3 separate regions of the Homo sapiens genome follow, and all the other regions are linked to region 3. The links come from fine-mapping of genetic effects on gene expression. A gene starts in region 3. Each other region holds a variant in brackets. All regions are shown on one strand. Distances are from middle to middle.

Region 1 (10,524 bases), 120 kb before region 3:
TATACATATTTGTAGCCTAAGAGCAATAGGCTATACCATGCAGCCTAGGTGTGTGGTAGGCTATACCATCTAGGTTTGTGTAAGTGCACTCTGTGTTGTGCACACAATGATAAAATTGCCTAACAACAATTAAGCAACACACGGCTGTGTAATAATTAAATAAGGAAAGTATTTAGTATTTTAGAAGACGGCAAATGCAATTTTAAAAAGTAGAGCAAATAAAGGGGTTCAGGAATTCCAGGGCAAAGGGTTTTGCGATTTTATATAAGGTGGGCAGGGTAGGCTTCCTTGAGAAAGTGACTGAGCAAACAGATGAAGTTGTTGAGGGAGGTCACAATACAGCTATCTAGGGGAAGAGGGCTCCCAGGGAGCCAGGGAGTAGTGGAAGGAGAGGGAAGAATGGCAGGCGTTAGTCTAGGGATGGGGGAATCTTGACAATGAGGCTCTTGAAGACCACCGTGAAGATTTTGGCTTTACTCTGCTCCAATGCGGCTTATTGCTGTTACTTATCAGGAGTTCTGAGGTGTGGACATTTAGTAACTGTTGGTGTTGAGAAGAGGCATGGATGAAAAAATATCAGAAAATACCTGGTTATGATATGTGCTGTCATTTGTCATTCCTCTTTGGAAACTCATTTTGATTCTCCCTGTGCTGTGTTTAAAAAATAATGAAATAAAGATGGGCTTCAAATAGGTTACAAAGTGGAAAGGAGTTTCAGTTGGGCAAAACACACTGAGGCCAGTCCATCTGCCCTCTGTCTCTGTTGCCCACATTGGGACAGGCAGCTTGGCTGGCAGGCACAGCTCTGCACCTCTTCTGTGCTGGCTGCTATTTCAAGCTACAGCTCCAAGGTCCATGGGCAGTTAGAGGCTGTCCTTTAGACAGACATAAGTCAGAAGGAAATATCACCTTCATTCTGTTTAGAAAGGACATTCTCCCCAGTCTTTGAGGAAAAATTTTTTGACATAATTAATATGAGTGATTCACACTGTAAGATTTTTTTTTCTAAAACAATAAAAAGTACATTTACTGCTGTAGACTGCTGCCACTAAAACAAAATCTCCTTCAGAGGGCAAAGGGATAGATTTTTTTTTTCTTATACTGTTATGCTTATTTATACTATTATTCACATATTTGTAGAAACTCCTTAGTAAAAAAATAAGTATAATTGTACAAGAAAGATAATCATTGATAAAGTGACCCTCAAGGTTGAAGACAACTAAATGACTGAAAACCTCAGGCTTTAGATGAGAAAACAATCTCACTGGATGTGCACTAGGACCCACAGAAAAGAACACATTAACAAACTTTTTTAAAGAACCTACACATTGTAGAGGAAGAAACAGGAAATTATTGATCTTATTGTTCACCCATCAAGTAGTGAAAAAAGAAACTTGGTTAAGTTGAAGAGGAAAAGATCAAAGCAACTGAGACCATAAATTTGCTCTATTTGTAAAATAATGCAAGTAATGTAAGTTGCATTATAGCAGAGCTAGATACGGCATACATTTTATATAATGTCCCGTGGTGCATCCATCCACCCAGACAATCAACAATTATTTTCTAAGTACCTACTATGTGTCATTCACTGCTGTGGGCCCTAGAGAAAATGCCTCCTTAGAGAAAAAGTAGACAACCTACAAGCTCTGGGTGCAAGATTTGTTGTTAGAAACCCAACATTCAGTAAACTGTTCACAAAGTAGGCTTCTGTAAAAAACTTACTTTCAAAATTGGTTGCTTCTTTACAGAGCACATTCTACCCTGACTATGGCCCTTAGCTAATCAAAATAGTTTTAAATTCTAAATGCTACTAACATTTAACATCAAGGCAGACCTTAAAGGTATAAAAGTTAGCGTTTTTTGATTGCAATTAACATTATAATAAAAAACATGTAATTCAATAATTTGCTACTTCTACTGAGGCCATCCTAACATTTTATACAATGTGTCAATATTGTGAGTACACAGCCTTATTCAATGAAATTTTGATTTTGTTACAGAAATTGAGTGTTTGTGATCTCCAACCATGGTGATCATGTTTCCAGAACCCTCAAATCAGGTCAGCTTGCCCAGACAGTATAAAATGATGTAGGAATTGTGTTTATGCAAGAAAAATCTAACCCTTACATTTCAGGAAGAGAGCAAAATACCATCTACTGAGAAGGTACAACCAACATTAATTGGAGAAATCATGACAAAGGCACTCCAGGTTGAATACTAAATATTCATACAGCTCAGGGATTTCTTTTTACCAGAGTAAGGTGGGCATGAAAGGTGTGGATTTTAAATGTCAGGAAATGGAAGCAACAGAAAATTTCCTAGGGAAAAAAAAATCAGTAATGAAGGAAAGAAAAAGCATGTATCAGATACAAAACTAATTTTCTGCACACAGTCCATGGTTTATTAAAATGTTGAGAAGAAAAAAATATATTTTGAAAAAGAAAATTTCCACCTATTTTCCCATCTATCCTCTATGAGTCCTGGGAAAAACAAAAGTTGCGTCTCATGTGTTAACTCTAGCTGATTTTTGTCCAGCTGCCTGCAGGTCTGTCTAGAGGGGGCTGGCTTCTAAGCCCATGTCTGGGATTTAGTGGCAATGTCTGTGGAAGATTTGGGGATGGAGTGGCAGTTTATATGCCCCATGTTTGATATCCCTGGTATAGACCAATACAAATCACATTTGCCCTACGAAGCTTTCCTTGATGAGTAGAACTCAAGCTGAACCTCTGCCTTCTAATTTACTAAATAAGAGGTCTGGGCTGAGTGCCTTGCATCAGAATGCATGCAATCTTTAGCCTCTCCTTGCACTGTGCACTGCTTCTACCAGGAGAGAATGCTGGTGTGTAGGAGACTGGAGCTCACCTCCTCCACTGATGACTCTTTGTTTTCACTGAACTCAATGGGGTGCTGAACCTTCTGCTGAAGTGAGGACAGGAAAGGGGGTGGTGTTACCAAGCAGCGGCAAATTCATGAATTTTGCTCTCTGGCAGGCTAATTTGGGGGTGGAAGGGTGGGTGGGCCACATGGAACAGGCAAACAACACCAGACTGTCTCCAGTTCAAAGCTATTTCCCCCTCCTCATATTTTTTTGGTTAAAAAGTTATGCATTGCAAATCTCCAGGATGAAGATTAAACTAATTGTTCCTTCATGACTCAATGTCAGATTCTTTACTTCACTGTACCACTTACTTTCCAGAGGAAGGGAGAAGGCACTAGCCTACACGCCAGGGTAGGTCAGCTCCTGCTCTCACATCATTTCTCTCAGCCCTTGTGAGTTTGCTCAAGTCCTCCCTCGCTATTTTTATTTTCCTTCTGCCTCCTACAAGTCTCTGAACTTAAGGAAAAGGAAAGCAAAGCTGAGAAGGTGATTGATATTTAATGGCACCTTTTCTGGGAGACAGCACTGAACTGGGTATTTTACAATATTTTCTCATGTCATAAGAAGGTAGACACAATTTTTTTCCCATTTTACAGCCATGAGATCTGAAGCTCCGAGTTGAGGAACTCGCCTATGACCACACAGATAATAAGATATATACTCAAAAGCCTGTGTTCATTCTATTTATCCTTGTCTCTTGATCTTTCTGTGCTGGTTTCTCCGTAAAATAGGGGCATCACTACCTCCCAGATTGCTTAATAGTGCTGCTACTCATTTCATCCTTTTGATCATGACTGGGCATTTATAAAACATAGCATTATTATAATATGCCATTGACATAAAAAGTGCTTGCCAATTGATTAACTGATTAGGGGAACTGAAATAAATGAGCCATATAAAATGGACATCATTCCTTAACATTTAAAACAAAAGTGCAAACAATCTGCATATATAATAAGATAATTTTAATAAATGAGAAATCACATATCACACAACAGCATTTAAGCCTGACCTGGCAAGGTGTCAACTCAGCCTCGCTCTCCTGTCATGTGGTACAATATAGGAAGTGCTGTACCATAGAAGACTGGATGGTCTTCTATGGGTGGATGTGGATGAACTCAGTGGGGAGAAAGTCTGTGAGGTGGGCCCTTTGGGCTGGGATTATGGGCCCTTTGAGCATCCATCGATATCCTTCAAAGAGTTTATTTCATGTGAGCATTCAGAAATTGTATGTAAAATATTTTGAATGAGCTAGTGAACTTTTTTTTCTAGAAAGAGAGTCAATGGCTTTCATCAAAACTAGTGTAATATAGTGGTTAAGAGTTCTCAATTAGAAACAGAACTTTCTGAGTTTAAATCCCAGCAACTTCAGTTACTAGCTGTGATGCTTCGAGTGAGATAATAAATCCCTCAATGTCTCAACTTTCTCATCTGTAAAGTGGGGATATCAATAGTACTGATCTCACAGGTTGTTGGGAGCATGAATGAATTAATGTATGTGACACACAGCACTCGTGTTCACAGCTGCCACTACCAAATTCATCACCATGATAAGTTCTCAAAGTCATCAATGAGCTTAAAGGATGACTTTGATATTTTATTGTTATCCTGATTAATAATAGCTATCATTTACTAAGCACCTCTTTTAGACCTTACATAAATTTACTTACAAAGTACTAAGCACCTTATATGCATTCCTTAATTCTTACAAATATCCTATGAAGTGGGCAGTATTATTAACCTTATTTTACACTCGATTAAGCCTTGACTGAGGCTTAAAGAGTTAAGCAATTTGCTCAGGGCTACATGGATAATAAACGGAAAGTCAGAATGCAAACTTAGTTCTGACTTACTCCAGAGCACAGTATCTTAATCAGTAAGGAACAAAATGCTTGTAGTTAAAAGACACCTTCTCAAGGTAAGCCAGAAGGGATTATTGGCTCTCTGAAAAACAAAAATAAAGGAATCCATGGGAGCACATTATAAAAGGAAAAGATCACATCAAAGATTAAACCATAGCATTTGTCTTCTCACTCCCACAAAAGCCATGGGAGCCACAGGTTTTAAGGTACCTGCTGAGCACAGCACATGGTGCAGATGTGTCAGACAGTGCTCCGTGTGGGATTTGGAAGGAATGGAGATGTCCGTATCTGAGACCCTAGGAAGGGTGAGCAAGCCAGGAGACCTAGAAATGGAGGCCAGGGGGAATGTGGGCTGCAGAAAACCAATCAGGAAACTGAAGTGAAGACAGGCAAGCGTTTGAACCACAAGAAAAATTTCAGCTTCTGGTTGCTACTAGATGTTGTTTTCTCAGACTGTTCAGTATTTCTGGTATTAGCTCTCAGTGCCTGCTACATGGAAGGTGCTCAACATATATTTTGTGAAATGATTTGAAGGGGGAGTTAGAAATAAAGTCAATTATCCATGATGCACAATGAAGTGTGCCATTGTGAATGTTAGCCTTCAATAAGTCTCCCGAAGAAGTACCATATGTATTCAGGGGATGTTGATGGTACTCAAAACAATTTAGGGATACTTCCTTCTGGAATTGTCTTCAAAAGGCATCACAAAAAACACCTTTTCCCAGTTTGATGCTTTGGGTAATTAATGGGTAATTAATTACTGGTCTTGGCTCTAAATTACTTTTGGAAATTTGAGTTATTTATCACTATTAATGATATTCTTTAAAATGTGCCCTAGGCTCTATAGCAATGAGACAATCTTTACATGTAGCTTCTATTAGGAGTACTTTACATACATTAAATCATTCAACCCTCAAAATAGCCCAATGAAGTAGGTATGGGAGTCACCCCATTAATAGATGAAGAAACCAAGGCACTGGGTTTTCAACATACCAAAAGTCATCAACTAAAAGGAGGTAGAACCCTCTTGTTTGAGTAATTGGGACATCATTGGAGTAAGTGTCATTTCTTTTTCCCTCAAATTATCTTAAAGGGAATTGTATTCAATTCAATTCAATTGTATGTTGAATTCTGACTTTGGTTATTTTTTTTGTGTGTGTGCATGTGTGTGTGTGAAGTCATATTTCCTTATAATTAATTCCTGCACTGATTATTTTATTTAGCCTCCTTCAAAAATTATTTTACTCTTTAAGAACAAAGCCTTTTCTTGTATGATATAATGGAGGTTTGCTTCTACCCTAAATGTAAAGAGTGTGGTGTAAAGGCAAGCAAACCACAGAACTGTTCGTGTTGCATCTGTCTCTATCTCCTCCTTTAGGGAGAGTGGTCTTTACACTGCACTAGCAGAAAGAGATGACCATGGCAACAACCACCCTGTAAGGTAGCTGTTTGTTTGTCCCATTTCAGACAGAAAGAAACTGAGACTCTCACTGAGGTT[T/C]AAGTACCTTACCTAAGCAGTACTGCTAGCAAGAGGCTGAGGTCAGGGCTGGCACTTTTCCCACTGTACCTCAGTTCCTTCAGGGGGTATGTACAAAGTTTCTGTTTGTGTTTAAAGAGAAATCAACCATAATTGTCCAAGATGGAGAAAACTAACTTAAAAGTAGTTCCTCTAAAAGGCAGATCAGATTTGGCTCAGAATTAAAGTCTGAGACAGGCAAGAGAATTCCAAGCTGCTTTAACAGAATTCTAGCCTCGAGATGTAGATACATTTTAACCCAGGACATGAAAACACAGTATGCTGTTAGGTCAGAAGGCTGAACATGGGGAAGCAGAGCATGACCCTCAAAAAAGGAGAAGTGGTTTTTTTAAAAGAATCTAGGTTAAGTAATGAAGAAATGAACAATTGCAGAGTACCAATTACACATCATGTACTGTTATTAGGATCTTCTGCACAAAAAGTCCTTAAGGATTCTTATCATCCTTCCTTTACAGTGGCAGAAATGGAGGATCAGAACAGTTATGGGGCTTGTCTAAGGTTACACAGGTAGAAAGTGGTCGACCTGGGCTGGGGCCCAGGACAATCTGAATCTATGTGATATGTGCCTTCTGTTACTACACACTGGCTTGTGATTAACCCAAAATTCTAGAACAAAATATTTAAACAGATAGCCAGAAAGCACTTGGAAAAGAAGGTGATAACCCTAGGTGCCAGCGCAAAGAAACAGGGCAAACTGAACCTATCACTCTCTCTGATAGGGTTTCTGGCCTGGTAGGTCTAGGCAATGCCATAGACACCCCAGGTCTCTCAAACGCAGTGTTGTTCTGGAAAAAAAGAATGAAAATATGTGCCCAGGATTAGGGCACAGTTAGGAGAATCATTGTGTGGTGAACAAAGGAGGCTGAAGGGTGTTATCAGTGGATGGTTGTAAAACTGGAGGGTGGTGACATGCCATGGTTCTGTGTCCTTAGCCTGGTTCCATTCATGTATTTGTTCACTCACTCACTCACTCACTTGCAAGCATTAATTGAATGGCAATGACACACTAGGCCTTATGTCAAGAACAGAGAATTTGGGATGGACACCAAAATGCACCATGCAGAATCTTCTTCAGAAGGTTTCCTTGCACCAGTTGCTGGGAGGGCTATTGGCAGCCTTCAACTGTCAGCACCTCAGGATCTGCCTCAACTGCAGAGAGCTACCTAACCCAAGGGCATGCCCCTTCCTAGTGTGGCCCACATCAGAGCACTGACTGGTTGAGCAGTATCAAGGTTATTCATCTTAGCCAAACTCACACTAACTCTGAAGGCTCCTACTAGTTCCTGAGTTTCCCTGGGATCAGCTCAGGCTGTTGTTCGTTGTGTAAAGCAGCTCAACTTCTCCCTCTGCCCACCCCACATCACAGGTATTAAGTCCAAGGTCACTCCTTAAAAAACATCTTGCACACTGAACTTGGAGTTGGAGTCATTCTGCTTCATTGAAAACTCACTGGTAAAAGAAGGGGCTTTACCATTTGTTCATCCTTTAAAGAGTACAACTACAATCAAGGACAAAATTACATATTTGGTTTAATAAAAGGAAGACTTTTCTTTCAGCAATGGAACAGCCTGCCTTAAAAAACAGTGAACCTGCATAAACAGAGGGACACTGGAGTGTCTCTGTTCAACCTGTTGTTAGCTAACAAGCAGCACGGTATCACTAGTATTTATAAATTAGTGATTAGAAAATTATTTTAGAACATTCTGGATTTAATAGGTACTGGGAATATTTTAAAACATATATGGGAAGAAATCCCGTTTCCTAATGAACTCTCTGAAATAATCTGAGATTACTTAATTCTAACCTTAAGATGCAGATACAATATAATTCAGGACCCAGTGGAAGAAACTGTCAAAGTCCACCAATAGCCATTTGTTCTTTTGTCTTTTAGTAATAAAACCCCGAATGTTAGCTGGCTACTACATGTTTATCTAGCAAAACACTACATTTTCCAGACTCCCTTGCAGTGAATGTGTCCATGTGATTAAATTGTGGCAGTGGGATCTGGGTGGTAGTGATGCGCGCAACTTCTGAGTTAAACTCTTAAAGAAAACCACTTGCTTTTTATTTATTCTTTCCTCCATCCCAAGGCTGGTGCATGGAAGTACTTGCAGTGGTAAGGCAGCAGTGCTACTCTAGGAAACGAGAAGCAATAATGCAGAAAATTCCTGGGTTTCTGAATGACCACTGGAGTAAGACTCTTTTACCTCTGGACTGTCTATCAGCTTTGACTTTCACTTGGGAGAGAAAGAAACCACCTATATTGTTTAAGCCATTATTATTTTGGTCTCTGTTAAAACAGCTTAACAAATATTCTAACTTACACAGATGCCAAATCAACCTGACCAGATGGCAAACCTGGGTGATGTTCATTCTTTGCCCTGTAAGCTTGGTATCTTATCAGCAGGCTGGAACATGATAAGAAAAAGAATTATTATCCTTTACCTGTGAGTTAACTCCTGCATTAGCCTTCTGCCTTTTTGGTGCTCTGCCTTGTCCTGGCCAACATTATATTTTATTTCTATATCAAAATCAAGGGCTAAGGCAAAATCTGGACTAAAATTTTGTTTATTTGTCTAACTGTACAATAGGATTGTTGCCAGCAATTAAAATCTTGATTTGTCTTGCTTCTGACACTTTGTCTTGAGAAGTAAATTTCAGATAAGTTTATATTGTATATACATATAATTATATGATTCATTCATTCCTCCCATTTCATTTCATTCGTTAATTTGACCGCCCAATATATATAGCGAAACTATTCAAGTATAATAAAACCAATTCATGATAAAAGAGATCAAATTGGTTATAGTTCATGGATACATATTAACAAATAAATGAAAAGAATAAGTGAGGCACGACTTTATCTTAAAAACTTCAAAAGAAACATAAATCAGAAGTCCAACGTAAACCATTGTTATGAATAATTTATTATTTGAAATTTCCTCATTTCTATTAATGTAATGATTGATGCTTTTGTAGTATAAAAACCATAGTTTAAATAAAATATTCTGATATATCATTAACTTGTGTAGACCCTATTTCCTTTTTAGTGCCTGAAGAAAGTATAGATGTATAATTGTCTGCTCTTTTGGCTGGAGACATGAAAGTCCAAAATCATTGTCATTTTGATCATGGCACCAGCTGGATTTTAGGTTATTTCTGCTTATCTGGCTCTGGAGAGGAAGTGCTGCATATGTCATTTATAAAATATATGTACATGGCTGGGTGCGGTGGCTCACACCTGTAATCCCAGCACTTTGGGAAGCTAAGGCGGACGAATCACCTGAGGTCAGCAATTCGAGACCAGCCTGGCCAATGTGGTGAAACACTGTCTCTACTGAAAATACCAAAAGTAGCCAGGCATGGTGGCACGTGCCTGTAATCCCAGCTACTTGGGAGGCTGAGGCAAGAGACTCACTTGAACCCGTGAGGTGGAGGTTGCAGTCAGCCGACATCATACCATTGCACTCCAGCCTGAGCAACGGAGCAAGACTCTGTCTAAACAACAACAACAACAAAACTATCTATATCTATATCTATCTATATTTACACACGGGTTATCAAGGAGAGGGCAAAGATTCTAAAGCCAAGAATATGTTTTCAGTTACAACCTCTCTTTAAACTCATGTACATCCAGAAACCTGCTCACCTTTTCCTAAAGTAGTAACAGCTCACTCTTCCACACCAACTATGAAAAATTATAAATATTTAGGAATCACAAAAATAGGAGATCCAGGTTCTCACATTACAGGGAACAAACTGGAGGTGTGGGTGCAGGAATGGGAGCTGAGGGTCCCTTGGTCTGTGGCGTTGTTGGTTTGCAGAAACAGAGTAACTCCGAGGTCACTCTCTCTGGGTGTCTCCATCTAGTTTTCACTCTGCTTCCCTTAACATTTTTTCATCAGAATCTTAACCACATCATGTCAATATATTTCCTTAAAAATAGATGTTGAGAAGAGCTTAGAGTAAACCACCACATTTTGCTGCATCCTTAGCAATGTATCTGGTTGGAGGAATAGCTACCAGAAAACTTAGGCATACATATTCCATTCAAAAGAGGGAATCTCTTCCTTCCTGGATTCAGCTACATTCCGGCAAACATCCACTATGTTTCTGGGACTGTGCCGGTACATTTGCTTTCACATAAATGTGTTCACTTAATCCTCTGAACTTGCCTTCTTTTACTTACCCCAGGTAGCTTCCAAAGGGCCAGTTTATTACACAGAGAACAAACTCAGAGAAGT
Region 2 (10,524 bases), 170 kb before region 3:
TGGTAATAAGGTAAGTTTATGAGTGCTATAAGGTAAGTAGCATTCTTGCCCTTGTTTTACAGATGAGAAAATGGAGGTTTCAAGAAATTCAATAGCCTTGCCATTGTCACCTGGCAAGTAAACAATCAAAACAGAACTGTGATGCAAACCAAGCACTGACTGACTCTGGATGCCACCCTCCTCCCTACCTTGCTCAAGGAGCATAGAAGTCAGGAGAGAGTTATCTTAGGAACCTGATAACGTGTTTGTGATACCCCCTAGAAGGATGAGTTGCTGCCATTAGTCTGTGGACCTCCGACAAAAAAGCATCTCCAGAGTACTGGGAAGCAATTGACATGCACACTTTGAGGGGGTTCTGAGGAATGGAAGAGGGCACAGAGAGTCACCAGTGTGTGACTGTGTGTTTTCTGAAAGGCGGTTTTCTGTGACTCTCATTACCAAGCAAGGTCACACAGATGTACACATGTAGACAGCCTGAGACTAAAAATAATTTAAATTCTTAACAGAAGTATGACATCTGACATCTTTAAAAGATGAGGTCCTTAATTTATGAAAGCATTTCATGGGAAGACAAATGAAAAATGAACGTGGGGAAGGAGAACAGACTGTATATGTAAGTGTTTAAAGAAGAGAAAGAGACTTTTTAGAAGAGAAAGAAAAAATTAGAAAAAAAAGAGGAAAGAGAAAAAAAGCAAAATGCACAGGTACAGAAATTGAATACAAGTATAAGAAGGTTTCCTTTATAAATAAAGGAGTGTTTACCTCCTGAGTTTAATCAGGTTGCCTCCTATGCACTTCCGCCAATCATGTGCAGTGAGCAAGCCTGCGTTCGGGCAGGCCAGTCTCCCCTTCCTGTGCACTTTCTCCATTTTCCGTATAATCTCTTCCACTTTGCAATGTTGAAGTTTAGCACTTTCTGTCATCAAAGCCAGCTCATGAAGACAACGTATTTTCAGTGGTTTTTACATTTAATGTGAATTTATGTCAAACTAGTGGCTCCCTCAGGGGTGTTGTGGCATTTGTCACAAAATTAACAATAAATGGTAGTATCTATTATGTAATGTGTTCAAATTCTGTGCAATGATTCACATGTGTTATCTCCCTTAATTTGCACCACCATCTCACCAAGTAAGTGCTATTTTAAACGTCTCTTTCTTACAGATGGGGAAAGCTAGAGTGCTTAAGTAACCTGCTTAAATTCAGATAACAAAAATCTGCAATAAGGAGTCTAGGAGGGTGTCAGAGGGTGTAGGCTTCAGTCTTGACTGTGCTTCTTCAATATTTGACCTGAGCTGGTCAATGATTCTAGCTTCACCTCTGCTAAATTAGGACAATAATACCAGTGCTCTCAATCTTATCCAAGGAAGGATCTGCACCACTAATGCCAGATGCCATAAGAACTGCATATTTTACCTTCTCTTCATCTGAGGTTGGAAACAGTCACCCTGAAAACACAATCTGAAGCATGGGCAGCAGGAGAGAGTGGTCTGATTTGTTTAAAGACTGTCCCCATTTTGCAGGCTATCAGGCCAAACAACTGCCCACCCTACCAGATCTGCTGCAGGCAGGAGGCAAATGACCCTTATGCCCAGGGATGACAATGCAGGGATATAACCAACAGATGGAGACATCAGAAAGTCTCAGAGTGCATAGAAGACAGACGACGCTCCAGAAGATGTATGAAGCAGCAAAGAGTGAAAATTAGACTAGCTTTTTCTTTAAAAGCTGATTATATTAGTTAGAATTAGGAAAAGATAAATGAGACCCAATTCTACAGTAATTTATAGAATATGTTATACATAATGCAGTGACAAAGGGAAAGAATGTTGGAAAGAGATTGAATTAATTTTGAATCTGGGTTTTACCCTTACCCTGTGACCCTGAAAAATTATCTGACCTCTCTGAGTTTCAGCTTCATCATGTTGTATAATGAAGATAGTACCTTTTACAGACATTGGGAGGATTAAATATGATGATATAGGATGTTCTATGTTCTTGTTATTTGAGGATAGTCAATAACAGAGAAATCATTTAACAATTAAGGTACTTTAAATGGATACTAAAATTTCATAGTACATAATGATAGAAGGGTTTGATTAAGATTCTAAGCTGTCATAAACTAAAGTTGTGAAAGGATATTTTATTAACAAAGTTTAAGCTACATTAATAATTGAGTTCTTGGAATGAATAAAAATAGTTTGTGTTGATATTTTTGGGAAGGGTATATTTTTCTGATAAAATTATGTTAATAGCTTTACACACCACCCAAGATTTAGGTTTGGCTTTGATTCAAGATCATAAATGGAGCCATTATTGCAGAATTAATTGAGAGTTTTATACATTATTCCGAGGGTCTCTTAGTTTCTTGTCTTTCTTTTGAAGTGGCTCTGATGTAAGCTTATGTTTTTCCCTCTTCTTTAGTAATTAATAATTTTAATTTCTGTTAAATTCTAAACTGACAATGACTTTAGGTGTGATGAAAAGCTTTACATCATCAGTTTCACTGACTTCATGGAATCCTATATCCTTCCTAAGACTGGCAATTTCACTTGCAATAAATATGCACTGTATTTGCATGGTATATCCATTGTTTATATGACCAGATGTTTATGGGAAAATTTATTGGGTTCTGCATTCATGTAATGGGTGGGGATGGACACTAGTGTTAATTTGGGAAAAAGTGTATCAGAATGAGGACTAAGGTTATAAGTAAATACTTTCATGTTGCTGTGGTCTCTGCTTGTCTTCAGAATCCAGTAACTGCAAGGTGACCAATAGTGAACACTGGGACAAAGAGTTTCATTAGTTTATGTAAATTACAGTACCTGACACACAGTAAAAACTCGATAACTTGGCAGCCATTATCATTAGCAGTGAAGAAGAATTTGCCTTACAGTCGTGTCATGTAACATACAGTTTCAGGCTCTCCTCAGCACCAGATGCATTTAGTAAATGAGGAAATAATAAAAAGAAATGTAGAAATTCTTTCTATATAGTTCAGTAGAAAGAACTGTATCATGAGAGCTTAACTTGAAAAGGTAAGTGTGCTCCTGTGACATTGTGAATCTTAGCTGAAGTGATGATTAATAAAGTTACTTTTTATGATAGCAAAAACTTTTCAAAAATGTTTAGAATAGGTTTGGGAGAAAAGAAGTCAAAATAAAGTTACTACATATAAATTTTTAATTTTTTCCCTTTTCTCTAAATCTTGGAATATTATGATTGTAGTTGGCTTAGATTATATAAAATATTATATAAAATATATCTTATATGTGTGTAAATTGTGTGTGTGCATGCTGCATATAAAAATGTATCTCTATGTAATGTTTTCTTGAGTGTTTTGATAGTCTTATACTATCACCTAATCTAATTAATAATAATGCTACGATGAGAACTAAAAGAACATATACTTTCTGAATTCTGGGGACTGTGCTAAGTGTTCCACATGCATTCCCTTATTAAATCCTCACACTTTTAAGAAAGATGTATTGTTATCCCCATTTTACAGCTGACAAACTGAAGCTTAAAAAAGTCAAGAAGCTTCTGTTAAGTGCTGCCTTGGCTTCTCCTGTCCTGAGGTAAGTAGCACCAATTGACCTGCTGAGTGAGAATACAGAGGAAAAAGGGCAAACCTCAAAAGGGGAGGAACAATATTATTGAGTACTTGCTATGAGCTAGGTACTGTCTTTTATGCTTTACACATAATGCATCATTTAATTATGACTACAACCATGTGTCCAGATAGGCATTACTACATATTATAGATCAAGAAACTGAGTCTGAGAGGAGAGAACCGTTTACCCATGTTTTTGCAGCCAGTAAATGGTGGAGTCAGAATTCAAATCTAGATTCACTTGACTCCACACTTTTCCATATAAGAGCCCCATAGGCCTCGTCCTTACCCATGGTAGCACTGGGTGAGTTATCCTTGCTACATGCTTTTCAGAGTGCTACATGTTCTCCTTCATGAAAATGAGGAAAGTGTACTTAAGAAAGTCAGTTCTCCAATGAGAACACATGGACACAGGCAGGGGAACATCACACACTGGGGCCTGTCGGGGGTGGGGGGCTGGGGGAGGGATAACATTACAAGAAATACCTAATGTAGATGATGGGTTGATGGGTACAGCAAACCACCATGGCACATGTATACCTATGTAACAAACATGCACGTTCTGCGCATGTATCCCAGAACTCTGCGCATGTATCCCAGAACTTAAAGTATAACAGTAAAGAAAACAAAACAAACAAAAACAAACAGAAAAAAAAATTCGAATGATTGATAAACATGCATGGATGCCCAAAATAAATACATAAATAAATAAGAAAGTCAGTTCTCATAGCGTAGAACTGAGAGTACTGGATTTCTGAGTATGTAAA[T/C]AGGATTAGAGTTATTTCCAGTCTTCCTCTTCATAAGTCTCTGCTCACTTGCCCTGGTTATATATGTATGTCATGTGCATATATATTTTTTTTGCTTTTCAAATTCTGCTCAGTCCAGGAACATACAATCAATTGACATTTTTCTTCATGTTTTGTAGAGAATTTTTCTTCAACCTGGGTCTTTGCCTAGAGCACCTAAACTGTCATCCAAAATTAATGCCCAATTGAATTAACTTCCTAAAATGTTTGACTCAGAAGATGAGAATATTATACTTGCTTTTTATTATCCAAGTCAGAACACATGTATTCAACAAAAATACTATTGTTAAATATGAACATAAGACAGAAGACAAAGTCATAATACAAATGAAAGAAAAGTGAATGTACACTTGCTCAAATTGATTTCCTCAGTCTAAAAACTTAGGATTTTCTTTGTCTTAGTATGAAGACTCATACAGCCAAATTTTAAACACTTTCACATAGACAGTGGTGAGAGTTTGATCAAGCATTGGAAACAGGCAGCTATAGCATGGCACTATGAAGAATATGAATAAATATATCAAAAGCTAATTTATGTAAAGCACTTGTATACGATGGCCGCTGTGCTAAACACATTACATGCCTCATGTCTTCTAATCTCAAAACATCTCTCTGAGGTACACTCTTTTAAATTAAACCTTAGTGAAATTAAATAACTTGCTCAAGGTAATTTGCTCTATAGTAAGTAGGGGAGCTGGGACTGAAAACCAGGTCTAACTTCCATTGTATTCTTAAACCCTACCCTGTGTTAAAGATGTTTGCCCCTACATCCTAGGAAGTTGTGATCCGAGATCTAGCTGCAGGCATGGCATGCATTCTCAAAGCAGAAGTATCACCCCAAAGGGGATAAAAATTGGTTCTTTGGGGAAGGTGAAAGAAATCTTACTTGTTAAATATATAAAGCACACAAATATACATATAGCACATGACCAGATGTACAGTACCTCTATGATATTAGAATTCGACTTGGGGAGCAATTAGGGAAAAACAAGGTCTAACAGAGGCTCTCTGGGCAAGGAAAGAGGGATAATGAAAAAAAAGTTTGAGAAGCACTAATCTACAGGCTTAAAAGGGCCAAAGATGTGAATGCCCCTGGACAACTCATCAACTCTCTTGGAAAATTAACAGTCATCTACCAGACTATGCAACTGCTGGTGGGAGAAACTGTCACATTCTTTGGAATCTAAGATACAGAATTTTGAAAGATGAAACAAGTAGGTTATGACTGACATGCATCCTAAAGGAACACTCAGGTGCTATAACTGTATCTGTCAAAAATTTCTTGTTGACTTTCAAGGAAATTATTTACTTTGCAATAATTTATAAGTAAATTCTGGAAAGCTAATGCAGATAAAATTCTGGAATTTTTGATGTGTCACAAAATTAAACTATCAATGCAAAGAGTATAAAGAGGTCAAGGTTATAAATATGTGGTATAGAAAAATCATCATGCCACTATGATATTAATTGTAACTGCTGATGGCCAGAAGTGATTCAGATGTGTCTGCAGATTCTGAATATGAAATAGATTTAGGCTCAGTTTCTGATGGTTATACTGAAGATAGTGGCCAGCACTTTGTCTATTATTATTGGTTAGAAAAAAAAATGCTTTTCTACACTTGACAAAGTTTATTTCGTGCCCAAAAAGTTGTGAAAACAATGGAGCATAACCCAGTGTATGGCTTCTTGGGATCAAGTAAATGCAGCACACATATTTGTGTGTGTATGTGTGCCCATGCGTGTGTGTGTAGATACATGCAGACAGGGTTTCATCAAGAATTTTCACCAAAACATCAAAAATGTTATTTCTACTACTCTCTGAATAGTGTGATTTTGGGGTGATATTTACTCTTTTATTTATACTTTCCCATATTTGAATTTTTAAAAGTAATAATATGCTTAAATTAATGTCATGATCACAATAAAGCCAACTGTGAGCTATTTGTAAATACTTTGAAGTGTCAAAGGGAATATTAGCGTATGTTAAAATAAAAGGATGCATAATTATACACTGTGTGATAATATAAACTATACATGCACACACGCAGACTCACATTCACATGCAAAATCTCAGAACTGAAAAACATCAAAATGATAATAGTGGTCATCTACAGCTATTTGATTATAGATCTTTTTAAAAATACCTTTCTGTTTTTCCAAGTTTTCTATAATGTGTATGTGTTACTTTCATACTGAGGAAAAAATATAAGTACATATTGATAATTACTTTGGAATTTTAAATATTGAGATTTCTACATTTTTCCTTTTTCTTTTTTCTTTTGTCATCTTTACATTTATTTATTAAAGAGAAAAGATAATATTTAGATTAAAATATCAACTGTCATAAATATTTATTAAAATATTTATAATTTATATTATATATAAATGTGTATCTCTATATAAATTATATCATATATATTTATTTTATATATAACTATTTTATATTATAAATATATAAATATATTTTATAGTATAAATATTTATTTATATTTTACATATTATATAATATATAGTTTATATTTTATGTATAATATAAAATATATTCAAAATTAAAAATATTTGATGAAAATGTGAGATAAAGGTAATAAAGATGAGTGACCAAATTAAAATAAATGGTTTGATAGCAAGAAGCAAATTATAACAAAAACATTTCAGATTTTACCAAAAACAGTAATTCATTAAAAAGAAATAAATTGTGAACCAAAGTAATGAAGAAGTTTTTTTGTTTTGTTTTGTTTTTGTTTTAATATAACTGGAATTCAGAAACATTTTGTTATTTATTTATTTATTTTTAAATTTTACTCTAAGTTCCGGGATACATGTACAGAATGTGTAGGTTTGTTACATAGGTAAACATGTGCCATGGTGGTTTGCTGCACCCGTCAACCCGTCACCCAGTTTTTAAGCCCCACATGCATTAGGTATTTGTTCTAATGCTCTCCCTCTCCTTGCCTCCCAACTCCCGACAGGCCCCAGTGTGTGTTGTTCCCCTCCCTGTGTCCATGTGTTCTCATTGTTCAACTCCTACTTATGAGTGAGAACCCATAAGTGTTCTTTCCTTGAATGGTTTATTTCTTTTCTTGAAGTGTTTATTTCTTGAATGGTTCCTTGCAGTTACAAATTGGATGCTGGTAATTTTGAGCACTACTGAAAGTTATTCTCCCAATGGGACTGATAAATATGATTGGAGAAGTAGGAAGAATGCAGTCTGCCATTGTTTGCCTGCCTGAAAGCCTGCTATTTGAGCTGCTAGTTTCATAGCAAATGGGCTGTGTGTAAAGTCCAAAAAAAGGCAAAAACCTAAGGAAAGGAGTAACTGACATTAAATAACTCATGCTTCCTCTCCCTAGATTCATTTGCCACAGTGATGATTGCAACTTTTCCGAAACATCCTTGAACAATTAATATTACCCTTGGGACACTTCTCCAGAAAAACCTCTTATGTTTTCTCAGGGCATATTTCAATTCTCTGAATCAGATCTTAGGGGAAGTCATGCTGTTATTACTCTGAATAGAAGACTAAGAAACACAGTTGTAAACACACACAGCACACGCTGCCTGTGTGAATATGCGTCAGCAAGAAAAGAAGCCCCAAGGCCATATTTACTTGTGTCCTGGTGACTTGGTACGGCAAAGTCAGCAGAAGAGAACACAAAGTCCATGAAATTTTTTTGTCTGCTGACAGTCCACGCTGTAGCAGAAATGATTACACACACAGTGCAGAATAGTTGAAGACATAAAAAGGTTCAAATCTTAAGGACAGTGACTTATGTTAATGCCTTATGTTAATGTCTCTCAGCCAATCTTTGATTTAATAAATGAAGCAATTAATATAAAATTCTTAGCACATGTCTAGCACATATTAAATATTCATTAATACTAACTATTATCTTAGGAAATGATTACTTTTGAATAGTACTTTATAGTTTGCAAAAGCCTTTCACAAGTAATTGTCTAAAATTTGTTTGGAGTATATGTGGTGCTGATTAAATATATCCACAGCAGACACATAAAAAGGATTATAAGTGGGAGATTCTCCTGAGTCTTAATAAAATCTCTTTGAATCACTAGTATACTTTCTTCATTCATTTATGTCAGAGGTTAATAAGAACAGTATTTTGAAATAGGGTAGGCAGCCAAAGTCTGTGGACAGCTCTTCTCAAAAGACATAATAGAAACAAACGCTATAGAGGTCATCAGCCAGCGATTGCATGTTGAAGGCTCAGAACCATCCAAAGATGAAGCAGTTTCCCCCTGGAATTCTCAGCTTCTCCATTCTTTTCTCAGGAAGTTTGAAATTATATGTCAAATTGGCAGAAATGCTATGATTTACAAATCCTTTAATAAAAGAGAGGATAAAAGATTTTCTGCCACATCTCCCATCAGTGTTGACACAGAACCCCCAGGAGTACACTGGCAGGCAGACCATTAGTCTCAACAAGTCAGCTTTAATAATGGGCTCTGGTAGAGGCAAAGGGTGTACAGCAACGCAGTGGCATGATGCTTCCAAATCATTGTCTTGCTCCGTACCAGCAGAGAAAACACTGCTTATCATCCCTGCTGACAAGGAAGGGAGACCATGTAGCAACTCTCAGCAGAATCAAATTGTCAGATTTTTATGTGGAAGAAGACAAGAATGCCACAACTGAAACTTCTCCAAAGCAGGCAAGAACTAAGTAAAACACAGCCATGTTACAAGCAGAGGATGCATGAAGTTGGACAACAGTTGCTTATATTTGAGTGCTTTGCATGCACTATACTAAGTGTTTGACTTTAATCTTGACCACAGCCCTGTGAAAGAGCTGCCATTATTATTCCAGTTTTCAGAGGAGGAAACTAAGTCTTAGGTTAGGTAACCTGCCTAAAGTCACACATTGTGCTGAGGTTATAACTAAGATCTAGAAGGCTTATTCCAGAGCTCATGCATAAACGCATACACACACACACACACACACACAGAGTTCTTTTTCTCTTTATATATGTGATATGAAATATCTATGATATGCCATATATCATTCATATTCCATATTTCATATATATCATATACAAAAACATTATATATCATATATGAAAACCTATGATATATATCATACTGTAGGTTATGATCATATATAATATATATGATATAGATCATATATAAATGTGATATAGCTGATATACAATATATAGTATGTATGCTATATCAGTATGTCAACATATCACACATATGATATAGAATATATGTGTGATACATATCATATCATATATATGATATATATATTCCATATCTTTTTCTCTATTATCTCTATATGTGTGTGTGTGTGTGTGTGCATATGTATGTATATGTGTACTGAGAGCAAATGGATATGCATTAATTGAGGAATCTTTCTAATACTAGGATAATACCAAGCATACCTTAGGTTAACATTTACATATCACCTAAGATTTTCTATTAGACTCTAACATAGCAACATGTTATATTGCTTCAGGGTAGAGTCTATGTAGGTATAAATGTTGCTCCCGTTTCTTCCATCACCCTACTAGAACATTTTTGCAATTCTACCATTGCCTTTGCTACAGGATGCTTTGCATAGGAAGTGCCGAACTCTTCTCTTTCTTCTATTCTTCTATTTCTTGTGAATTACTGGAAGGCAGGAGTTTTATTATTTCACCTCCATAATTCCAGCACAAGGGCTTGTAGCTAGAAGAGCTCATGGACTGGTTGTGAAGCACTGAATGCAAAAATAAATGAGTGAATATTCTTTAACTTTTCTATTCTGTTACTCATTTTCCTGCTCCAGGGAACTATTTAACTTATGCTTCAGGTTTTAAAATTGTCCACGCATAGCAACCCTTCTTTTTGTGGGGCTCAAGACTTTCCGCTGTTCTTGTTAGTTCCCCATTTGGTTACTCCAGTCAGATGAGAAGTCCTGTTCTAGAATCTACTTTTGCACCCAGGGAAGTGCAGCTGACACTCAGGGTTCCATTCCTCTCTGGGGAGTGAAAGGCTTCAATCTTGAGCAAAGCAAATGTTGCCCAATGTTTATCTATTTTAAACCTATTGGCCTTTGTATGACAGACATATTCAGAAACAACTGTGTGTTTTGGACCATTATGGCCATAAGA
Region 3 (10,524 bases):
ACATATATATCTAAAGAGGTTCTTTATGATACAGAACACTGGAGAAGATGAGAAATTACACAGGTGATGGAACATATATTGGAATCTTCTATCTGCATGTTTAGATTTTCTAAAGTAATTTCATCATTTAAAGAAGAGAATCAGTAGGAAAATTAGAAGCATTCCCTTTAAAACTTCTTAACTAAATACAAAATGAACAGCTCCAGCTTCAAGATGTCTTGCTCTTTTCTGACCAAACCAAAGAATTTTCCAAATGTTATTTTAGTAAAACTCTGTTTCTAGATAGGAAAAGAAGAAGTTCTTAGTGTTTATAAGGTTTATTGCAACAACAGAAGTTTAGTTACTCTTCAATTATGCAAAATTTTTTAAATAATGATTTTGGACATAAAAGGCATTAATAAGAAGTTAAAGAGTATAGTTCTGTCAATATTCATATTTAAAACAGAGAGACACAGAATATGCAACCAAAGGCACTACAGCCTATTTTTCAATTAGGTTAACATGCCCAACCTGATGCAAAGCAAAACTAAGAGGTTCCTAGAGGGTCAAAAACATGAGCTTTGTGGTTAAATGGATGTAGGTTCAAATTTCACTCCACCATTTTTTTGCCTCAATGCATTATTTTTACTTTTGAAAGGTAGAAAAGGACTGAAAAAAGCACCGTATATACAATATACTTAGTTTCAGGTTATTATGAGTAGTAAATATAATAAAATATATTAAATTATCCTGAATATTGTAATTAAACCCAGTAAGCCCTTAAAAATATTTGCTTGTTAATTTTTTAAATTGTCATATAAAATGAAACCATTGGCACCCAGAAACTTATCTTTCTAGTATAGCACCTAAGAGCCTGAATATGGAACTAAAAACGCAAAACGCCTTCAGTTGGGCCTACGTGAACAAGGAAAGTACTTTCTAGACACCCTCACAAATAGACAGATAGCCCAAGAAACTCTGACTTAGTTCCAGTTATCTTAGAAAGGATAGCTAAAGAATGCCATTTTCAAACTTTAATAATAATATATCAAAAAATAGTCCTTGAATAGTTGCCCTAACCACATAGACTTCATTGTAAGCTTAGCCAATATGTACACTCCATAGTTAATAATTCCCTTTGCTCATCATCTTTCCTTTCATATTTATACTACAGAAGGCTCCAGATCATGTGGCTTTCTTTAGAAAAGAAACAACTCAATGCCAACCACTGCCAAAAGATAAAGTATGCAGGAAGCAGCAAATCAAGTCCCCTAAAATATGTTTTTTAATTAAAATATGTTAAAAGAACCATGGAGCCACAAACCACTAATCACCTGCTTGTGGTCCCTGGGGAATTATTTCGTTGACTTCCACAAAATTAGGATCACTGAGGAGGTAGTAACATTTATCATCTATGATTGGATGGATTTCCAATAGGCATTGAATGAATGGAGCCTATATCCTGTTCCACACAAACAAAACGTAGTTTACTATGACCCATTCTGCTGAATATTTGTTTACTCTTGCTTTACACAAAGTAGAGAAGTGCCTTTGAAAAGTTGCCATGGCCATGCTTTTTCTGAGCAGCAGACTAAAACACTTTAGCAATATAGAAATGTACAGCCACACGAGTGCAAATATATGTTTTCTTCCTTTCCAGAAATGTGTTTGGGTGGATGACTCTGTGTGTGTGTGAGACACACTAGTTCAGAAGAAATATGATTTTAACTAGATGTTTGGTAGCACATTCTCAGAGTCCACTAATGTTTCAACGAAGAGCTGCCATGACAAATTTGGGGTGCCTTTTATGAGGTTCCTTATCTTTCCAAGGTTATTGTGGTAGATGTACAGAGGCTGGCAATCTCTAGAGATGAGTTAAGTTGAAATAATAATTATATACCACACCTTCAGAATAAGAGCAATTCAGAGGTGAAATTCTGCCATGCAATACCAGAAACATGAATGTATATTGCCAAAAAGACTGTCAACTAAGTTGGAAGGCAACTGATAGCAAATTGATTTTTGGTTAAACTCCTATTTGCCTTTCTAAGGTCACCGAACTATTAAGATAATAAGGCTTAAAAACATTTAAGTAGGAGCTATGGGTAGAAATAAATGTTAATTTCATTTAGCTATTTAAGCCAGTGGGAACACCTGTCCAATTTCTCTTGCAAAAGATCTGGTGAAAGACAACTGTATCCATAGTATAATTCATACTAATTCATACCAGTGCTAAGATAACATTGTTCATTAGATAAATTTGGCAAACCCAGAGCAATAGTGCTAATTCAGCTCCAGCACAAGTCTTTGTTGCAGTTCTCATTTTGGTTTAGGCAGCCTGGATAAGCTTATCACAGAGCTTTGAACTGACATTCTTGGATGGCACAATAGACCATATTACCAGGAGAATCATTCATGAGCATCAAAAAACGTTACAACCTTCAAAGAAGATACTTTAGTGCCATGGTTTGCAAGGCAAGAAGTGAAAAGAAAGAGCATCCAATTCTCTATGCAACACTGAAATCTAATCAGAATGTGTGCAGATGCATTTTTAAGAAAGCTATATGAAGTTGAGCTGGAGAAATACAGTACCTCTACAGGCAAGATATTTTTTCTGAAGAAGATAATCCACATGAGCTTTTAATTGAAAAGTGCATAAATAACACTCTGTCTTGCCTTGTTATTCAAAGATTAAATCAATTTTGAATTAATGAAAATGATTTAATCTGAGAGTGTTAGCAATCTCAATTTATTTAGGCCTGGATTTAAAGGGCTAGCTTGAGAGCCTTTTGCAAACAAGACTCAGCTCCATAACAAAATCATACCCAACCTCTCTTTTAAGGCTATCTTCTAAAATCTGTGGGTTTTGACTCTAGAATTCTTCACTCCCCCAAATCACATTAACAATGTTTGACATGATGACAGGGAGAGCAAAAAGAATTCATTTCTGCCAAATAAGTACAGGCTACACTGCTGTTTTTATGAAACCTTCCTCCTCTTATTCCATTTTGGTAAATTTCTAAGGAATAGTTAAAATCCGTAGGACAAACCTTGGCTTAAGAGGTGGCCTCTCTGCCATTTTCATGGCTGATTTGAGACCCATTATGCACTCAATTCTGCATTGTGAAATCCAGGCTGGGGACAAATTTCTGCCTGTCATCTTAGGAAAGGCCAGGAGTTTTGCACCATCCTATAGTGTGAAAACAGAAAATCAAAGCCTGCATAGAGCTGCTTGCTTCTTTCCTGATCAGCTTGCTGCTTTTTGGAGACAATCTTGGCTGTCACAGTGTCAGACTGGGAAGGGTAATTTAGCAGAATAAAATATAGTTTAAATAGCATCTCTCCAGGGAAAGTTCCTCCTTACACTCAATATTGAATATGCGAAAAGATCATCAGCAAATAATCATTTGATACTTGGCTAAAATCCATTGGACAGGGAAAGCATTTAGGGAGCACAAAATTCTTTTTTAACCTGATAAGACCCCGAATCAGGAGGCAAGAGGCCCGGATATTTTCCTTATATTTTTCATTCTGTTGCAATGACATTCTCATACAACTACAGTTTATGGACCAAATTTGCTGCCCTCCCCATCCCAATAATATGATGTAAACTGCAGAGATAAAAATACCTTATGAGAATTTTTACAATTTTAAACAGTTCACTGAAAATGTCTGTATGGATAACTCTGTTAATGACCTCTCCTGTCTAATGTCAATTTCAGAAAACAAGTTTCCATTGTAAATGTTTAATCAGTGTAGTCCCAGGAACCCAGAACAGAAAACCTTATCTTCTCGCCCAACTTATTTGCTCTGCAAGCTCTTTCCTAGCTCCATCTCAGCTCCCTGCAAACACTTTAGGCTTTTCTCTCTCAAAGGAGCTGGGAGCTCTGTAGGTTCTGAGCTAGGCAGCAGCCCTGTGGTTTGATTCCATTAGTCTGAGCCCAGATCCACTGCAAGCAAACTGCAGCATTTCTGCTTGCAAAACATTGGCAACCAGGTTCTAGAACCGCCACATACACTGGCTGCACATATTCTTTAATGCTGTTCTGCCCAAACCTTGCCTGAAGCCAGTCAACCATAGCAGAAAGCATCCTACCTTCCATCATGGTGGCAGAATTGCATTCCTTAATTTCCAAGGAGTCTGAAAAAACACAGGAGGATACGATTCCAGGTCCCAGCTAAGTCCTCACCACGCCGCTGCTGAGGTCTATTCCGTCCGCTGTCAAAGCCAAAGGAGATAAGTGTTAAGCCAAAAGACAGGCCATGGATGCTGCTGGTGCTTCTTCACCTACAGGCAGGCTACCAAGAAGATGCTGAGAGAAAGGGAGAGGAACGGCAAGCTGGCCGAGCTGCACCGCCTGCGCTGCCTCGGCCAATCCCTTCAGCTTTGGACCGCGTCACATGGTAGCCAGCCTGCATCTCCTGACACAATACCCCCGGAGAGCACACAGAACCTATTTCCCGTCCCCATTCCCCTCCACCCCCATCGCCTCCCGCTTGTCACCAAATACACAGCCCCTTCCCCACCTGGTGACGCACTTCCCCCGCCCCTCCTCGTCGTCTCCTTAAGCTTACAGAAGCGGCTGGGTGCCCGAGATTAGTTATCAAGGGCTGCCACCTTAACAGGGGACTCTGGCGTGAAAGCAGCACCTAAGTGGCTCGCTGCGGAGGGGGTTCTTTTCTTTTTCTTTCTTTCTTTCTTTTTTTGTTTTTTTAAGAAAAACTTAATAATTCCGTGCAGCCGGAAATCTTAGCAACACACTTCTAAGCTCCCATTCCGGTGTCCTTTTACCCTGAAGGAATTCCAAATGTCAGTGTCTGTGGCCTCCGTGCACATCTGTGCGTCTCTCTCTCTCTCCGTCTCTCTTTCTCCCCTCCCATCCTTCATTCAAGAGAGAAAAATCAATCCGACTGACGTCACATCATAAACATCCCCAAAAGGATGATGCAGAAGAAATTTCACCCCAGCTGCCTTCGTGAGAGCCAGGGAATTAATTGCGCATGACATGCTGAAGGGCTGGGAACTGTCATTAAAACAAAGAAACAAAAGAACCCACCCGAGTGGGGCTCTGGAATCAAACTGGCAACGCTCGAGATCGTTTCTGGGGCGGGAGGCTGGAAAGGGGAGCAGGCAGGGAGCGGAAGCCTGAGCCCGACCAAAGACAGCTGTGCACGCCGGCTCCCTCCCACTCCAACCTGGGCTCGCCGTCCGGGCTACAGACGGGACCCTGCGGGGCGCCCTTCGACGACCGAGTTCGAGTCCCGCCGCCACCGCGTCCTCCCCGCCGAGCGCACACGGGAGCGGCCTCGCTTCCCCAGGTGGGGAGCTTTTCTCGCAACCGACTGGGGCTGCAGCTGCCAACTGCAGTCTCTGTAGGAAACAAACTTTCTCCTAAATGACACGTTTCTCCGCGACGCGCCTCCTGCATCTGGAGTCGCCTTCAAGCCTATTCATTCACCCAAGTGGAAACCTGGAGGGAGGCAGTTGTGCCTGGTTGTGGCGGAGCCCAGGGTTTTGAAGCTGCCAGGAATGGGATCTGGGGGCTGTGTAGTTGCCTAAGTGGGAAGTTGTGTCACTGGGCCCGGTTGGGTTCAGTCTGTCACCTGACTGCTCTCCAGAGACCATGGAGCCTTTCAGAAGGGCCCAGCCCTGGGGGATCTACGACCCTTGGTTCCCTTCAAGAAAGCTCAGACAGCGAAGGAAGAAAAGGGCAGGGCAGCCTATGAGAGAGAGAAGGCAGAGAAAAAGGAAAGGAGATGGGAGGAAAGGGAACGCCTTCTTTAGAACTCAGGAAAAACAACATCAGAAGTGGGCATTTCTCCCTGTATAATCTCACAGTATGACCAGGAGAAAAGCTGTTACAATAGAGAGCAATTGTGAGCATCCAATGAAAATGTACTCAAAATAACTGGAAGAAGATGCATGGTATGATCAGGGTTGAGCCTGTAATGTATTATTAATCATTTCTATTAGCAATATACTCATGAACTTTTTCTATTGCTCAGCCCTGGACATGGCCTAGCTCTTTCTACCAAAGCAAATATGACGTACTGGTGACTGACTGAAGTAGCATATTAATAGTTGAAAAGCAAAACACAGCTCCTTAGCAATTTAGAAGTTTTGAAAAACCCATTGTTCTCCCTAAGGACACATACTTCAGTGGCCTCTAAATTTTAAAATGAAATTCTTCAGGGAGATACAAATACTTGTGACTTTTTTCTTATGTCTCTAAGACAGTTAAATTTTAAAAGGGGAATGAATTCCTAAGTAAAACCTGCCTTGAGTACAACTTACACTGCTCTGAAAACTGGAGGGGTATTATTGCAAAAAGGATTGATTTGTGTGTGTGTGTGTGCATGTGTGTGTGTGTTTAGCAAATGTTTTGTAATGATTAAGAACATTGATGGGTATTCGTGTCAAATAGATGGGCACCAAGTTTTGTTTGTGCCACATAATGAGCTCTGTGACTCTGAGCAATTTATGTAATTCTCTGTGCCTCACAGTTTTCTTATCCTGAAATGGAGAGAATAATAATGCCAAGTTAATTGAGCTATAAATGGTAATAATAACAAACCTGTATTAATGGCTTACTATGTGCCAGACAGTATTCAAATACTCTGCTAGTAAATTACTTAGCATTTTGTCTGGAGCATAATAAGACCTGCATGTTAGCTTTTTAGTATTAGTATTATTACTACCAAAGGGCTGGCAGATGCATCAAAGAAGTTTGCAGCCAACTGGGAGTTGTACCAAATGCACAGAGAACAAGTTAGTGAAAGACCAGGTGATGCATCCAAAGATGTAACATGTTGGAGATTTCTGAAAGGCTGCTAAGTAGGAAATCAAAATCTAATGAGGTTAATTAGGAAAGACTTTTTTTTTTTTTTTACAGAGGTGAAATTTCAGAGTTCAGAACTTAATTGGAATGGGCTTGAAGTGGTAGTTCTAAAGAATATAGGGAGTTGTAAGTAAGAAAAAAGTATCATGTAAAATCTGGAGGTGAGTGCAAGCACTGAGGTGCAGGAGTGGGGGCCATTGTTAGGATGTAAGGGAAAGGTGGAGAAACCCAGGCTGCCTGCCTTCTTCCTCCCAATGTAAGTTTTACAGTGTGTTAGAGCAATCCTCTCAGATAGGTTTGGTATGGGTACACTTCAAGTTTTTTTAGACTTGCAGCAACTATCTAGAGACAGCAAGTCAATGGAAAGATTCTTTTGGTCAATGACTATTTATAGGAAAAGCAGAAGTTTGTAGATATTGTCAGAAAGGGATGTGTATTTCAAGGTGGTAAAGCTAATCCCAAAGGCTAAACTTCACCGCAACTTCATCAGTTGTGTGTATTTTATCCTTTAAAAAGAAGATGCTATTACCAATAGCATATCCAATAGAACATCCAATGAATGAAGTTCTGTTTCAATAAAATTTGCTCAAATATGTAATCAAAAGAGATTATCCTAATTGTGGTGTTTTCTCATAGGTTTTTTTCTTTTTATTTTCTTCTTCTTCTTTTTTTTTTTTTTTTTTTTTTTTTTTGAGACAGTCTCACTCTGTTGCCCAGGCTGTAGTGCAGTGGTGAGATCTTGGCTCATTACAGCCTCCACCTCCTGGGTTCAAGCTATTCTCCTGCCTCAGCCAACTGAGTAGCTGGGATTACAGTCATGCCCCACCATGTCCACCTGATTTTTTTTTTTTTTTTTTAGTAGAAAGGGGTTTCACCATGTTGGCCAGGCTGGTCTCGGTCTCCCGACCTCAAGTGATCCACTAGCCTCGGCCTCCCAAAGTGCTGGGATTACAGGTGTGGGTCACCATGCCTGGCCTCTCATAGGTTTTTGAAAAAAAAATTGTTTTGATCAAGAACAAAGACAATACTTTAGGTTGTGGTTCAAATTTTATCACTTCATCGTATAATTTTTGCTTGCCAGCAAGGGCAAAGGAGAATATCTAGCCTCCAAAACCATGGAATACTTTTTGCAATTCTGAAATGAAAGTCAAATGGTATATGGAAAAGATTGGGTAAATAACTGACTTGCATCAAAGTGCAAGAATTGCTCAGGAGTTCAGCTCAGGATGTGAATGTCAACCCAGATCATACCAGGCTCTGATATGGTACTTATGACTGGTCCAAGACCAAAAACTAAATTGCTGAAGTCACTAGACATTCAACATTTTTTCTAAAATAACATTTGTATGGTAGTAATGGCTGATTACATAGTGTTTCAGAATGAAATCTTATTATATTCCTACTATAAAAGCTGAGCTTCTTCACTATCTCCCAATTTTAGGTTGAAGGGGAAATTTGTTTATATTTTAGAAAGAGAAAGAAGACAATGAGAATTGAGTCACAAAGAAAGGAGGAAAGAAAATTAGCATTAAAATATGGATCCAGATTTGTGTATGTGTTTGTGTATCTCCAAGGTAGTGCTCTTAACATGACAATTGACTCTGCCCCTTTTGCTATCCCCACTGAGGTAATTCAGTGAATGTAGATGGAAAAATATGTTGCCCAAGTCCTGGAAATTGGCAAGACTGAAAAATTGGAATTCCATGAGATGATATAGATGAAAAAGAGATACATATATTTGTGTGTGTGTGGGTTCCCATAGTTACTCTATTCCTGGCTGAAATAAAAGAACTCCAACTTCAACTAACATGGGCAAAAATGGAATTTATTGAGGTAGCTCATAGAATTATAGCAAGAACTGAACAGCTGAGGGAAAGCAAGAACCAGGACAATCCAGGAAATTTTGTTACCTGAACCAAGTACTCAGAACTCTCTCTGTCTCTTCCAGCATGTCATCTCCTTTTCTCTTACTAATTTTTCTCCACATGATCAGGCCTGACCATTAGCATCCTCTAAGCTCACCTCTTCACAGATTTACTAGGCTAGATCTCCTTCAAAAAACTTCCAGGGAAGGACTGTGGTTGACCTGGCTTGGATCATTGTTCACTTTTCAAACCAGTCACTGGGGGCCATGTTGATGAGTTCTCATGATAGATTTTTTTTAAACCAAAACTTACATTGGACTGTCATATGCTGACTACTGTGCCTATGTATGTGTGTGTGTGTATATATATATATGTGTATATATATGTGTGTATATATATGTGTATATATATATGTGTATATATATATGTGTATATATATGTGTGTATATATGTGTGTATATATATGTGTATATATATGTGTGTGTGTGTGTGTGTGTATACTATATATATATACACACAAGTTTCTATGGCAAACAGAACCCATAATATGATTGTATCCAGAGAGAAACCAGCAGAACCTGTAGTCATGCTCCTGTTTCCCTGGGGGGAAGACTCTATGTGCTGGCCCACTTATGCCAAAGACAAGACATGCCCTTGTATGCTTTTCACCCATTGGACTATGAGCATCCCAAGAGCCATGTGTTCATAGCTACATGAGTGCTGAAGGAATTTATATCAGCTGGGAGTACTGCTTAATCTAGACCTACATTGATAAAGATAAGCAGTAACACTGAATCTATGAGAAAATTCAACAGTTTCAAAAGAGAAGGAAAATAACTACAGCTCACTGAAGCATAGGAAATGTCCCCACCGAGGCAGAGGAAATGTGGAGAACTTGAGAGGCATTTTTCAAAAAATCTGTTTTTTAGTTTTGATATAATTTCAGAGATACAGCAGCAATAAATAAGAGCAGATTGCTGTGATAAAAGAGCATACTGAGAGCCAGAAAGAGTGCATGGAAGTAATAAAAACATTCTCATTAAACATTTAAAAATGTTATAGCTATAAGCAGTGATATAATGGGTACTGCCAAGATTGAACATTGATAGCCCAGTGGCTATGTGCTTGAAGCATAAACCTACAACAACAGCAACTGTCCCAAGCATAGTGGAATTCTTTCTCTCTTTGGAGAATCAAATCACTCCGATGCAATTTTGACAGCTCAAGAAACTGGAAAAAGAGAAAAAGCTCCATAAAGCTTCAACTTATGAATTATAAAACATGACAAAAATAATTAAAAATAGAATATAGCTCAATCTTACTTATGAATATTGATACAAAAATTGAAATAAATGACAGCCAACATAATAGAGCTTTTCAAGAACATTGTATATTATATTAGACTTTACTCTAAAAGTAAGAAAAAATAATTCAACATTAACAGTCTACTAATATAATTTACAATATTAAGCTTTTAAAAAGAAGCATATAATTGTCTTCATAGTTGCCAAAAAGAGATTTGATAAATTTCAACTTAAATCACTCATGAAATAAATAAATCTTAACAAAGAAAGAGATATAAAACTTCCCCAGGATGGTGAAAATACATATCTTGACCCCAAATAGGCCATTTTTTAAATGGAAACATAATGAAAACATTTTCATTATCAAGAATAAAAATAAAAAATAAGACAATTGTTCTTTATCATCACCGTTATTTAATATTTAATACTATTTTATGGATGCTAGCCAAAATATTAGGAAGAAAAATAAATAAAATTGTGTCAGAGACAGTGGTACATGCTTATCACACCACTTTCTCCATCTGGATACACAGGAAG

Alleles and levels. Positions count from the first base shown, and alleles are read on the strand shown. Sizes are in standard deviations (SD) of each study's normalised expression. Not every link is listed here.
For the expression in visceral fat of the gene that starts at base 4,291 in region 3, T is the low allele of the variant in region 1 and C is the other (small effect, 0.25 SD a copy in GTEx).

What was found. PIP is the estimated chance that this variant, and not a neighbour inherited with it, causes the effect. A credible set is the group of variants that fine-mapping cannot tell apart.
Region 1: its variant is the best candidate, but not a certain one, in a credible set for the expression of SGIP1 in visceral fat (GTEx, PIP 0.63).
Region 2: its variant is the best candidate, but not a certain one, in a credible set for the expression of SGIP1 in fibroblasts (GTEx, PIP 0.54).

What each region holds. Positions count from the first base shown.
Region 1 is chr1:66,645,116-66,655,639 of GRCh38, reverse strand. All of the region lies in intron 7 of SGIP1 (SH3GL interacting endocytic adaptor 1), which reads right to left. Among named protein-coding and RNA genes, the nearest start is that of MIR3117, 22 kb to the right of the region's middle. RefSeq lists an enhancer at 6,336-6,505. The variant T/C (reference allele first, on the strand shown) is at 6,239.
Region 2 is chr1:66,702,728-66,713,251 of GRCh38, reverse strand. The region is part of intron 18 of SGIP1 (SH3GL interacting endocytic adaptor 1); the gene reads right to left. Among named protein-coding and RNA genes, the nearest start is that of DYNLT5, 44 kb to the left of the region's middle. The variant T/C (reference allele first, on the strand shown) is at 4,381.
Region 3 is chr1:66,527,920-66,538,443 of GRCh38, reverse strand. SGIP1 (SH3GL interacting endocytic adaptor 1) reads right to left here and starts at 4,291. Exons shown (of 25, transcript NM_032291.4): 1 at 4,076-4,291. The coding sequence starts at 4,085.